2 separate regions of the Homo sapiens genome follow, and region 2 is linked to region 1. Evidence: fine-mapped QTL for protein levels in blood plasma. Region 1 holds a variant in brackets. A gene starts in the other region. All regions are shown on their forward strands. Region 1 overlaps EPS15L1 (epidermal growth factor receptor pathway substrate 15 like 1). Region 2 holds the start of CD6 (CD6 molecule).

What was found. A credible set is the group of variants that fine-mapping cannot tell apart. PIP is the posterior inclusion probability: the model's chance that the variant is causal. The UK Biobank Pharma Proteomics Project read protein levels with antibody pairs (Olink). The fine-mapping took linkage between variants from a reference panel, not from the people measured, so its PIPs are less certain.
Region 2: it holds the start of CD6, and the variant in region 1 is the best candidate, but not a certain one, in a credible set for the plasma level of the CD6 protein (UK Biobank, PIP 0.52).

Annotation. Positions count from the first base shown.
Region 1 is chr19:16,419,957-16,425,329 of GRCh38, forward strand. EPS15L1 (epidermal growth factor receptor pathway substrate 15 like 1) reads right to left here. Exons shown (of 24, transcript NM_001258374.3): 9 at 5,127-5,360; 10 at 1,363-1,520. Among named protein-coding and RNA genes, the nearest start is that of EPS15L1, 49 kb to the right of the region's middle. RefSeq lists enhancers at 350-953, 954-1,557. The variant C/CT (reference allele first, on the strand shown) is at 2,458.
Region 2 is chr11:60,967,575-60,972,947 of GRCh38, forward strand. CD6 (CD6 molecule) reads left to right here and starts at 4,106. Exons shown (of 13, transcript NM_006725.5): 1 at 4,106-4,340. The coding sequence starts at 4,292.

The sequences.
Region 1 (5,373 bases):
TAGGGGTGGCTCAGTCAGCGGCCATCCGGCTCTGACACCACATCCTGCTCTGCTGACCCGTACGGTGGCAGCCATCGCAGGGAAAAAGCCTCTGTCTTCATGCTCCCCCTCCTCCCAGTCCCTCCTGGTGTGTCATCTACATTGGGCCATGCCCCGCCCCAGCCACTCGCAGACACATCTAGACTTCTTTTCTCATGGTTATTCAAGAGCCTGATCATCCTTTCCTTCCCCTTTGCTGCCCGCATGGAATGACCTCTGAGTTCCTTCTTTTGATCCAGGTGGATTAGTGATTTCCTGTGTCATTTCCATGTCATTACATCATGTGTCAATTGCAGCATGCATTATAAATTACTTTCCCTCTACTGACCCCTAGACATGACAGTCAGGGTGTCAGGGCGCTAACCAGGAACTGTATGTGTGTTGGTTTCAGAGTCATAAAGGGGACACTGTGTTTTGTTGGTTTCTAAAAGGGACACTGGATCTGAGGCAGCTGAGACCCACTGTCCCTAGCCAGTTGGAGGCGGCTTGGCCATTTGGGTGATGACTCTGCGACAGCTAGTTCTCAGGCTCCCACCTCACAGTGTGGTCATCTGTGAATTACCACTAAGGACAGTCATTTCCCCCAAGCCACTAAGTAACATCCTGAATTTCACTGCTCTACTTGGAGGTATTTGCCTCTCGAGAATTATCCAGCAATTCTTTCCTTTTGATAGCTCCCAAGTGAAGCCTTCTCTAAGGCCACAAGGCTCTGAGCAACAAGCTCAAAAGTGACTTCAGCCCTGGCCAGTGGCAAGAGGAGTGCCCCAGCCCTATGAAGTCGGCTGTGTCCAGCCCTGGGGGAAAGAGGGGTTGAGGCCGACTCCTCGACTGGGCTCTGAGGCACTGACAGGGTCTCCTTGTGCTCACCCTCCCGCCAGGAGCCAAAGCACTGGCCTTTCCAGAGCAGGGCCTCCTGCCCCCGCCCTCACCCTGCCAGGCCACTCTGCTAGAGGCTCCAAGGCCCTGCTGCCCGCACCTCCCGGAGGCGGCTGTGACAAAGTCCAGGCCTCCTGTTAGAGCCAGCATCACAGCCAGCAAGAATAGGGCCCAGCTGTGTAAGCAAATGGCCTGGGAGCACTTAAGACGGACCAGAGGCCCTTCCTACTGAAAGACAGTGAACTGACCGTCACGGAGCGCGGGCTTCGAGCCTTGGCACGTGCACCTTGCTCAGCCTCTGTCAGGCCAGGGAGAATAAAGGACGCCAGACACAGCGGAAGCCTGTGACAGGCTGGAGGGGGCCCCCTGACCACCACCCTCCACAGTCTTCACCCACAGGCCCCCTGGAGCCACCCACAGCCACAACTGCCACCTGTCCGGCCTTACCATATGTGTGCTAGAAGGTTCTGGGTGAGGCCCGAGTGCATGAAGATCTCCTTCACCTCCTGGCCACTCACGTAGCCATCCAGGTCCAGGTCGGTCTTCAGGAATATCTCATCAAATCGCATCTTGTCTGCCACGGGCACCACCCAGTTCACTGTTGGCTGAAACAGTTTTTGGCAAAACAGTTAATCTGGAAGCTTTTTATGACCCCCAGACACATGCTTTTTGATGATGGGGCGATTAAAGCACTTCCATGCACATTTGGCATCAAACTCTCCTCACTTCCATGAGCCAAGAGGGCAGATGTGATCCTTGTTCTGTAACTGGCAAAACTGAGGCTGAGACAGGTTGAGGCTGGCTCTGTGAAGCTCACCCAGATGCCAGTCTGCACCTCTCTCCACCCCATCACCCGCTCTCCTTGTCCATCCACCCTGCCACCCAGGGTGTGAGGGAGGCTGTGATCTTCAGGGGATGGGTTCAAGCATGCCAGGAAAGACCCTCCCGAGCACCCACTTGGAAGGACCGTCCCTGGAGAACCGGCCCGGCCACATGCCAGCCTCCCTGGTCCTCCCACTCCTCAGCCCGCAAAGGCTGCCCTACAGGCAGCCAAAGTGTCCTGTCCCAGGACTCTGAAGACCACCCTTCTATGTCCCTGCCCCACTCCTGAGACAACAAAGATACCCCCAAGGTGTGAGTACACACACGTCACTGACAGGTAACAAATGAGACACCACCATCCAAGAGGGCCACCACCCACGAGGCCCCACCAACATTCATGCAGCCCCAACCCCACCAGGGCAGATGGAGCCACGAGCCCAGTGCAGCTCAAAGTTCACAGCCCTGGGGCTGGGTCACCCGCTGCACGTGCGACCCCTCTCGCCACCAGCTCACAGTTAACTTGAGAGAGGCAAACGCCATCATGGGTCAACCAGGGCCCGGTCACCTCCTGGTTCAGAGGCATTGAGGCCCCTCAGGCACTCAGGGGCAGGCCCCTTCCGTGGCCTACTCCACCTGCATTACCGCGGGCCTTCAATACACCCACCACGCCACAGTTCACGGCATCTGTGTCCTGAACTCTAGACGTGCTTTTCCTCTTCC[C/CT]TTTTTTTTTAAATATTTACACAAATCACTCCTTTTAAACAATCTCATAATAGCAATGAGAATAAACACCTGATTGAATTATCTAGATGATGAGGGAGTGGAGAGAAAAAGGACAGGCAAATGTGGCTGGAGGGATCGATTGTTCCTTCTCCACGCAGCAACTGTACAGAAAAGCCACTCCACTCCTCACCTTCAATGAACGCCATGATGCCTGAAACTGCCACTCAAAGTCATTCCTCTCAGTTATGAAAGGATTTCTTAGGCTGGGTGCAGTGGCTCACACCTATAATCCCAGCACTTTGGGAGGCTGAGGTGGGTGGATCACCTGAGGCCAGGAGTTTGAGACCAGATTGGCCAACATGGTGAAACCCCCTCTCTACTAAAAACACGAAAAATTAGCCAGGTGTGGTGGTAGGCACCTGTGATCCCAGCTACTCAGGAGGCTGAGGCAGGAGAATTGCTTGAACCTGGGAGGCAGAAGTTGCAGGGAGCTGAGATTGTGCCACTGCACTCCAGCCTGGGCGACAGAGCAAGACTCCGTCTCGGGGAAAAAAAAAGGGGGGGGGGATTTCTCAAAGAGTTCTCACAGTGTTGACAACCCGAAGATGTCCATAGGATTGAGGAGAAGGGACTCATGGTCAAGACTGGGAAACAATGGTTAAACTCGTTTACTCTTCATGAACGAGTCTCCTGTGATGTCCAAATCTAACAGGCTCCTGATACCAACTCAGGGAAATCAGAAAGCAAGCTTGGGAAACAAGGGATACCATGTGACCCAGATCAGCTTAGTTCAGGGGTTTCACGTAGCAAGTATGTGTGATGAAGTACAGCAAGGACTTGATCAAACAATTTATCAAAATCCATGGAGCTAGGCCAGGCACAGTGCTCATGCCTGTAATCTCAGCACTTTGGGAGGCCAAGGCAGGAGGATCCCTCAAGCCCAGGAGTTCAAGACCAGCCAGCATAACACAGCAAGACCCCATCTCTACAAAATAAATAAATAAATAAAATTAGCTAGGTGTGGTGGCATCCACCTATTCCAGCTACTAGGGAGGCTGAGGTGGAAGGATCACTTGAGCCCAGGAGGTTGAGATAGCAATGAGCCGTGATTGCACCACTGCACTCCAGCCAGGGCAGCAGAGCAAGATCCTGTCTCTTATATATTTAAAAAAAAAAAATCTATGGATCTAATTCAAATGATGAGAGTTCAGATGGCAAGAGCAACCTGATTTTTACTTGTGGCATTGTACTGTGTAAATTTTGTGAGCCTTCTCAAGTCTGGTGGACGTAAAGATGCCAATAAAGGAATTCTAATGAGAAATGGGCTTGCTGCCTTTTAAGTCACGGAGCTACAGCAAGCTAACCTCAGAAGCCAGGGATCACAAAGAGGTAACAGGAGTCAGACAAGCTGAGCTGTGGCGGGACACAGAAACAAGGGGGGTTCTGTGTCCCACGGGTCCCAAGAAGAAATTACGTATGAAATTATAGCTCTGGGATGACAAGAGTCCTAATAATACTTGCTGGGCAAACAAAAGGAACTCACTGCCTGATTTCTGGAGCCTCAGAGTATGTTAGCAGCAAGATTCTGATGCCAAATTGACTATAAACCCAACACGGGGCAGCCTTGCCGTGGAGCTGGCTCTCCCAGTGACAGCTGGGCTTTAAGGCCGGCTCAGCAGCCACAGGTCCCAAAGGAAGGATATCAGACCCTGGTGGCTGGAAGTGGCTTCACTCAAACCTGGCATGAGGGCAAAATCGGGTGGCCCTTGGGAGGCCCAGACAAGAGCATTGCTGGCCTGGAGATGAGGAAGTTGGAGTAGGGGGAGCATGTGGACTGTAGGCCCCCAGAAATGCTCGTTTTCATGACTGTGATCCTACCAATGCCGTCGTGGGGGCAGGAGCTATACCCTCCCACCCCACCCCACCAGGGGCCACTGGTAAAATCGGTCTAGTCAGAGGGTCTTGAGAGAACCACCAGAAGATCACTAGAGAGGTGGGTTATGACGCTGGGTGACCTGTGCCTACCAGTGAGTTTGGCCCCACTAGCTTCGTTGCCAGTAAAGTACCTCCCCTAACCTGACTTTCAAAACTCTTGGCAAGAGCTCTGCAGACACAGGCTGGGCACGGTGGCTCACACCTGTAATCCCAGCACTTTGGGAGGCCGAGGCAGGAGGATCACTTGAGCCAAGGAGTTCAAGACCAGCCTGAGTAACATAGGGGAGACCATGTTGAAATAATGAGATAAATGAATACTTTTTTTTTTTGAGATAGAGTTTCGCTCTTGTTGCCCAGGCTGGAGTGCAGTGGCGCGCTCTCAGCTCACTGCAACCTCCGTCTCCCAGGTTCAAGCAATTCTCCTGCCTCAGCCTCCCGAGTGGCTGGGATTACAGGTGCGCACCACCACACCCAGCTAATTTTTTTGTATTTTTAGTAGAGACGGGGTTTCACCATGTTGGCCAGGATGGTCTTGATCTCCTAACCTTGAGATCTGCCCACCTCGGCCTCCCAAAGTGCTGGGATTACAGGCGTGAGCCACCGCACCTGGCCACAAGCATTTTTTAAAGACATTTCATCACAAGCTTGACCGTTCTGGGGTTGCATGTTAAGAACTCCCGAGAAACATCCTACTGTGCTCTGAGAGGGGGCTGTGCCCGCTGAGGGCTCCGTACCTGTGTTTGCTTGAGGCTGTGCTTGGGGGACAGGCTCCCTGTGCTGTTGAGGCTGCTGACGCTGCCGTGGGACGGCGTGGAGCGGAGGCTGTCTTTTGGTGGGGGGCTGGCAGGCAGGACGGGGACGGCGCCAGGGAACACAGTCTTCTTTCTCTTGGAGGGTGGGATGAGGGACGGGGGCAGGGCGGAGGGCACGGGCTCCTTCTCCAGGGCTCGGTACACCAAGTGCATGGCCTGCAGGTGCAAA
Region 2 (5,373 bases), not on the chromosome of region 1:
GCAGGCTTCTCTCCCCAACAAGTTCCATTTTATTGTTCAACTAGTTTAACATGCATGTTTAATTGAACAAGGTCAAATGCTAGTCAATATTTTGCCCTCCCACCAAATAATAGACCTTTCCCACTCTGATCACTCCTCACCAATTTGTTATTGTTTTATGGTTCTTTAGTTTTATCTCATTTTTTTTTTCTTTTTTAATTTTTTTTTCTTTTTTTTTTTGAGACAGAGTCTCGCTCTGTCGCCCAGGCTGGAGTGCAGTGGTGCAGTCTTGGCTCGCTGCAACCTCCACCTCCCAGTTTCAAGTGATTCTCCTGCCTCAGCCTCCTGCATAGCTGGGACTACAGATGCGAGCCACCACGCCTGGCTAATTTTTGTATTTTTAGTAGAGATGGGGTTTAGCCGTTTTGGCCAAGCTGTTCTCAAACTCATGACCTCAAGTGATCCAACCACCTCAGCCTCCCAAAGTGCTGGGATTACAGGCATGAGCCACCATGTCCAGCCTATTTCATTTTTTTCTAACTCCACAAAGTGGACATTTTTGTAATTATTTTATGCTATCAGTGCTTATTAAATCCACTTCTGTGTTTACATATTTCTTTGCTCACCATTCTTACTTGAATCTTAGACTTTTTTTTCTGAGATTATTTTTCTTGTTTTTGAAGAACATCCTTTAGAATTCCCTTAGGTGAGAGTCTGTTAGCTATAAATGCTCTCAATTTTCATCTGAAAATGTGTCTTTTAAACCTTATACTTGAAAGATAGTCAAGGTTGACAGTTATTTTTTTATTAGTACTTTGAGATGTTGTTCCATCGCCTTCTGGCTTTAGTTATTGGTATTGACATATTAGCTGCCCATCTACTTCATCATTCATCCATCTTCTGTCTAGTGATCAGCAGTTTTGCTACCAAAAATGTTTGGTGTAGATTTCTTTTTATTTATCATGCTTGGGTTGGGGGAGCTTCCAGAATCTGAGGATTGTGTCTTTCATCAAGTCTAGAAATTTTCCATTTTCTTCTAGAACTCTAATTAGACATATTTAAATCCTTGTTCCTTGTCTATGTCTCTTAGCCTCTTTCATATTTTCCACCACTTTGTCCTCCTGTGCTCCATCCTGGGTAAATTCTTCAAATCTATTGTTCACCCCAGTAGTTGTCTCTTCAGCCATATTAATCTGCTGTTTATTTTTATGTATGTATTTATTTATTTATTTTTGAGACAGAGTCTCACTCTCACCCAGGCCGGAGTGCAGTGGCACAATCTCGACTCACTGCAATCTCTGCCTCCTGGGTTCAAGCAATTCTTGTGCTACAGCCTCCTGAGTAGCTGGGACTACAGGCATGTGCCACCTCACCTGGCTAATTTTTGTATTTTTAATAGAGACAGGGTTTCACTGTGTTAGCCAGGCTAGTCTTGAACTCCTGGCCTCAAGCCATCAGACTGCCTTAGCTTCCCAAAGTGCTGAGCCTTAATCTACTGTTTAATCTGTACACTGGGCTTCTATTTTCAAAAATTATGTTTTTACATAACTGCTTGCTTTTTTTCCCTCAATCTTCCTGGTCACTTTAAATAGTCTCTTGTTCCTTATCTATACTTTCAATTACCAACTTTTAATTCTTGAAGCATATGAAACATCCTTATTTTATATTATATATACTGCAATTCCAACATCTGAGATGTGTTCGAAGGTCTGCATTTTTAGTTTATTGCTTGGTGCTCCTCTCACCTAAAGCACCTTGTGTCCTGTGTTTTATGATTTTTCTGTTTTACAAACATGTGAACTCATGTTCCATGGGAGTTTTTCTGTGGGATTTCTTTGAGTCATGAATATAGGATGAGTTACTCCAGAGACAATTTTTATCATTTGTTTCTGCCACGTGCCTAAGGAGCTATTATTTACCTTACTTTAAATTCTTATCTTATCTTTTTGTTTGTTTGTTTTTTGTGTGGTTGTTTTTGCCACAAAGTCACCATGAGTTTCACCTCCAGGCCTATTAGTGGGTAGACTTGTGGTGAGGGGCATTCAGGGTTGACATTTATTTTTCTCCCACTCAGAGTCCATACTGAGTTGGGCAAGCTCTGTGTCAGCTCGCTTTAAGGAATTTTTCTCTCCGAGTTCTCCACTGTGGATGTTGTATTTCAGTGCTCTTTGTTTAAGGCAGAAATTTTGGATTTTGTTTTTCACTTCGATTTTGTTTCTCAGCTTTAACTTTTGTCCATGTTCATAAGACTGAAGCTCTTGGTCAACTGGATCAACAGATACTTCTCTGCTGGCTGTGATCTCTTTGGATTTTTGTTGTCTTTATATATTAACATATACAAGGTCTCACTCTGTTGCCCAGGCTGGAGTACAGCAGTGCAATCTTGGCTTATTAAAGCCTTGACCTCCTGGGCTCAAGCGATCCTCCCACCTCAGCCTCCTGAGTAGCTGAGACCGCAGGTGTGTGCCACCAAACCTGGCTAATTTTTTGCACCTTTTGCAGAGAGAGGGTTTCACCATGTTGCCCAGGCTTATTGTCGTTTTTGATCTCTGATGATTTTCTTCATTTCTCACCACCTCAGCTACACATTTTAAAAGATGGTTTACAATATTTTTGTGGTGTTTTGTATTAGGAGAATTCTTCAGCATCTGCTGTCTACCATATTGTCAGAAATGGAGTCTAGCCATCCTTCCCGGCCCATTTCAAACGGGTTCCTCTTAGGACCAGGAGACCTCACATTATGTGTGTCCTACCTTGGCCTGTGGTTTGGTCACTTGTGTGTGTGTGAACTTCATCCTCCTTGAGGGCAGGAATATGGTTTCCTCTCTTTCACTTCCACAGAGTCCTGTCCAGAGTTCTGCACACCAAGACTGTGTAAATGAATGGAATTGCATCTGGGAGCTCGAGGCACCCATGCAAACCTGTGCTGCCAGTGACTTCCACCAGAGGGCAGCGGCAGCAGGTGCCGGCGCTGGGGCAGGACTGGGAGGAGTCTCACTCTGGGGGCGCCTGGTTCCCCGTGGCTCTAATACTTGCCGCATCAAATGCATACACCCACATTTAGGACCGAACCCAATGGAGGAGGACCGCTCCTCATTCCACATGTTGGGGAAATGAAGACAAGCAAGGATGCAGGAAGTGGAGGGCCAGGAGAGGTGGACCTGGGATGGGACCAATTGAGGCAGGGCCAGGATTTGGAACCAAACCCCTTCTGGATTTGACCACTTCCAGGGCCCTGCTTGGACAACCAAATTATCTATTCCTTTTCTCATTCAATAAACATTTATTCACCTCCTACCATATGCTCCACAGGGAGTACCATGGGAATTAAACACGCTTGGCCCCTGCCTTCTTCCTATAGCGTCAGTCTGCTGCAGTGCAATGGGGCAACTCGGGGTTTCTCAGGCAGCCCTGGGCTTCCTTCCTTCAGCCCTTTGCTCCTGCTATTCCTTCTGGCCCAGAGGCCTCCCATGATTGCTGTTTGTCAAAATCCTGCTCAGCCTTGTAGACCCAGCTCCCATGCCTGACTCCCACGGAGGCATGCCCAGTCTGGTACCTGGAGATGGGATAGCTGGCCCCACTGTGCCATCTGACGGGGCGGCTCCCACAAGGCCTTGGCACCCTTCCCTGTAGAAGGACTTGTGGGATGGCCATCTCTCAGGCCCTTCCCAATTTATATTTCTCTGAGGGGAGACTTAGGCTCTTATCTCCAAAAGTGCATCAAGACCACACCCTCCTTCCCAACCACCATTGCACCTAAGGTTAAGATAAAACTCAGGATTTAATCCAAGAGAGCCAAATTACACGGACCGGGACAGGCAATGGGTCATTCACTCCCTCTTCCAATATGTACTGATTGAGCAGCTACTACATTATCAATTTTTTCTTCTGGGCCACCAGAAATGAGGCATGGCTCTTCCACTTCCCTTCTTCTTAGAAGACCCTCGGGGAAGTGTGTCTGCATGGATGCGTGTGCATGCGTGTGTCTGGCTCCGTGACTCTTGGGGTGCAGCCTGGATGGGTGGGCTCCCAGCACAGGCAGCTGGGGCTCTCCCCACCAGCCCCTGTAACAGCAGCCCAGCTTCCTGCAGACCAAAACCACAAGCAGAACAAGCAGGCGTGAGACACTCACAGGTTGGGTTTGATCGCATGCGTGTCGGAGAGGAGAGAGCAGAGAGAGACACAGGAACAAGAACAGCAAAGGGTAGAGCAGACCTGCGCCAGGGGCGCACAACGGCCGTGTCCACCTCCCGGCCCCAAGATGGTGCTTCCCACAGGCAGCCACGCGTAGCAGCCAGAGACAGCTCCAGACATGTGGCTCTTCTTCGGGATCACTGGATTGCTGACGGCAGCCCTCTCAGGTAGGCCCCCTTCCCTCATCTCCTGCCACTGGTGCTGGAGGAGCCGGGTCCGGCCCTCTCAGTCCCCTTTCTGGTTGTTTCCTTGTGGTCACTTTTCTAGGATCTTTTAGCCAAGACTACACTCAGGTACCAGGGAGGTCCAGCATCTGGGGCTAGGAGAGGACACAGGAGCCCCTCGAGGGGCTGGGGCTGTGCCTGGAAGCCTCCTGGAGTGACAGAATGTGGGAAGCATGCTTTGTGCCTTACCAATGGGTCCCTAGGGTGTGAGGAGGGAGGTGCCTCTCCCATCCTTAAGCTCAGGAACTCCCCCATTTCCTATTTCTTGCCAACTCTTAAGAAGGAACCGTTCACCTTCCAGAGAGGCAGGACCACTGATGGTGGTACTTTCAACGCCAAAGCTGAGGCTTGGGGTCCAGCAGGCGTAGGCCAATCACAGGAGAGCACCTCCCGAAACAGGACTCAGGGAAGCCAGGGAGAGTTCTGGACAACCAGGCGCTGATGGCCTCAGCACAACCAGCTGGGGTAGTCTAGGGCATAAGCGAGCATGAAGGCCACCCCCACGTCTCAAGCTGCCCCCAAGTGTCAAGGCACCTGGCCACCTGGGCCAGGGAATCAGATGGCCAGAAGGTTTGGGGCACTAGACTGTGCTCCCCAGATACTTGCTGGCCCCTGTTGAGTGCAGGGTCCAAGCTGGCCAGAGCGGGGCAGGGGCCTGGAGATGCAAGAGATCCTGACCCCATCGAGCTCTCACATTTTGGGATTTGGGAAGACTGGTATGGAAACAGAATTCGGGCCAGGGGAGTCTGGGTCCACCTTGCAGCCAGAGAGCCAAGTGCTTTCATTTTGTGATGGAGGAGACCCAGGAAGACCCAGTCAGGAGGGGGCATCGAGCTGGTTTGGAGGACTGGGTACATGTCGCGAGACTCTGGGCAGGGAGTGCTCTCCTCTCTGCCTTGATCTCCAGGCATGTGTTCCGAGCCTGTGGCCTCATACTGGTTCAGGGAAAGCCATTCGGCTCTGGGAACTGGAGTTT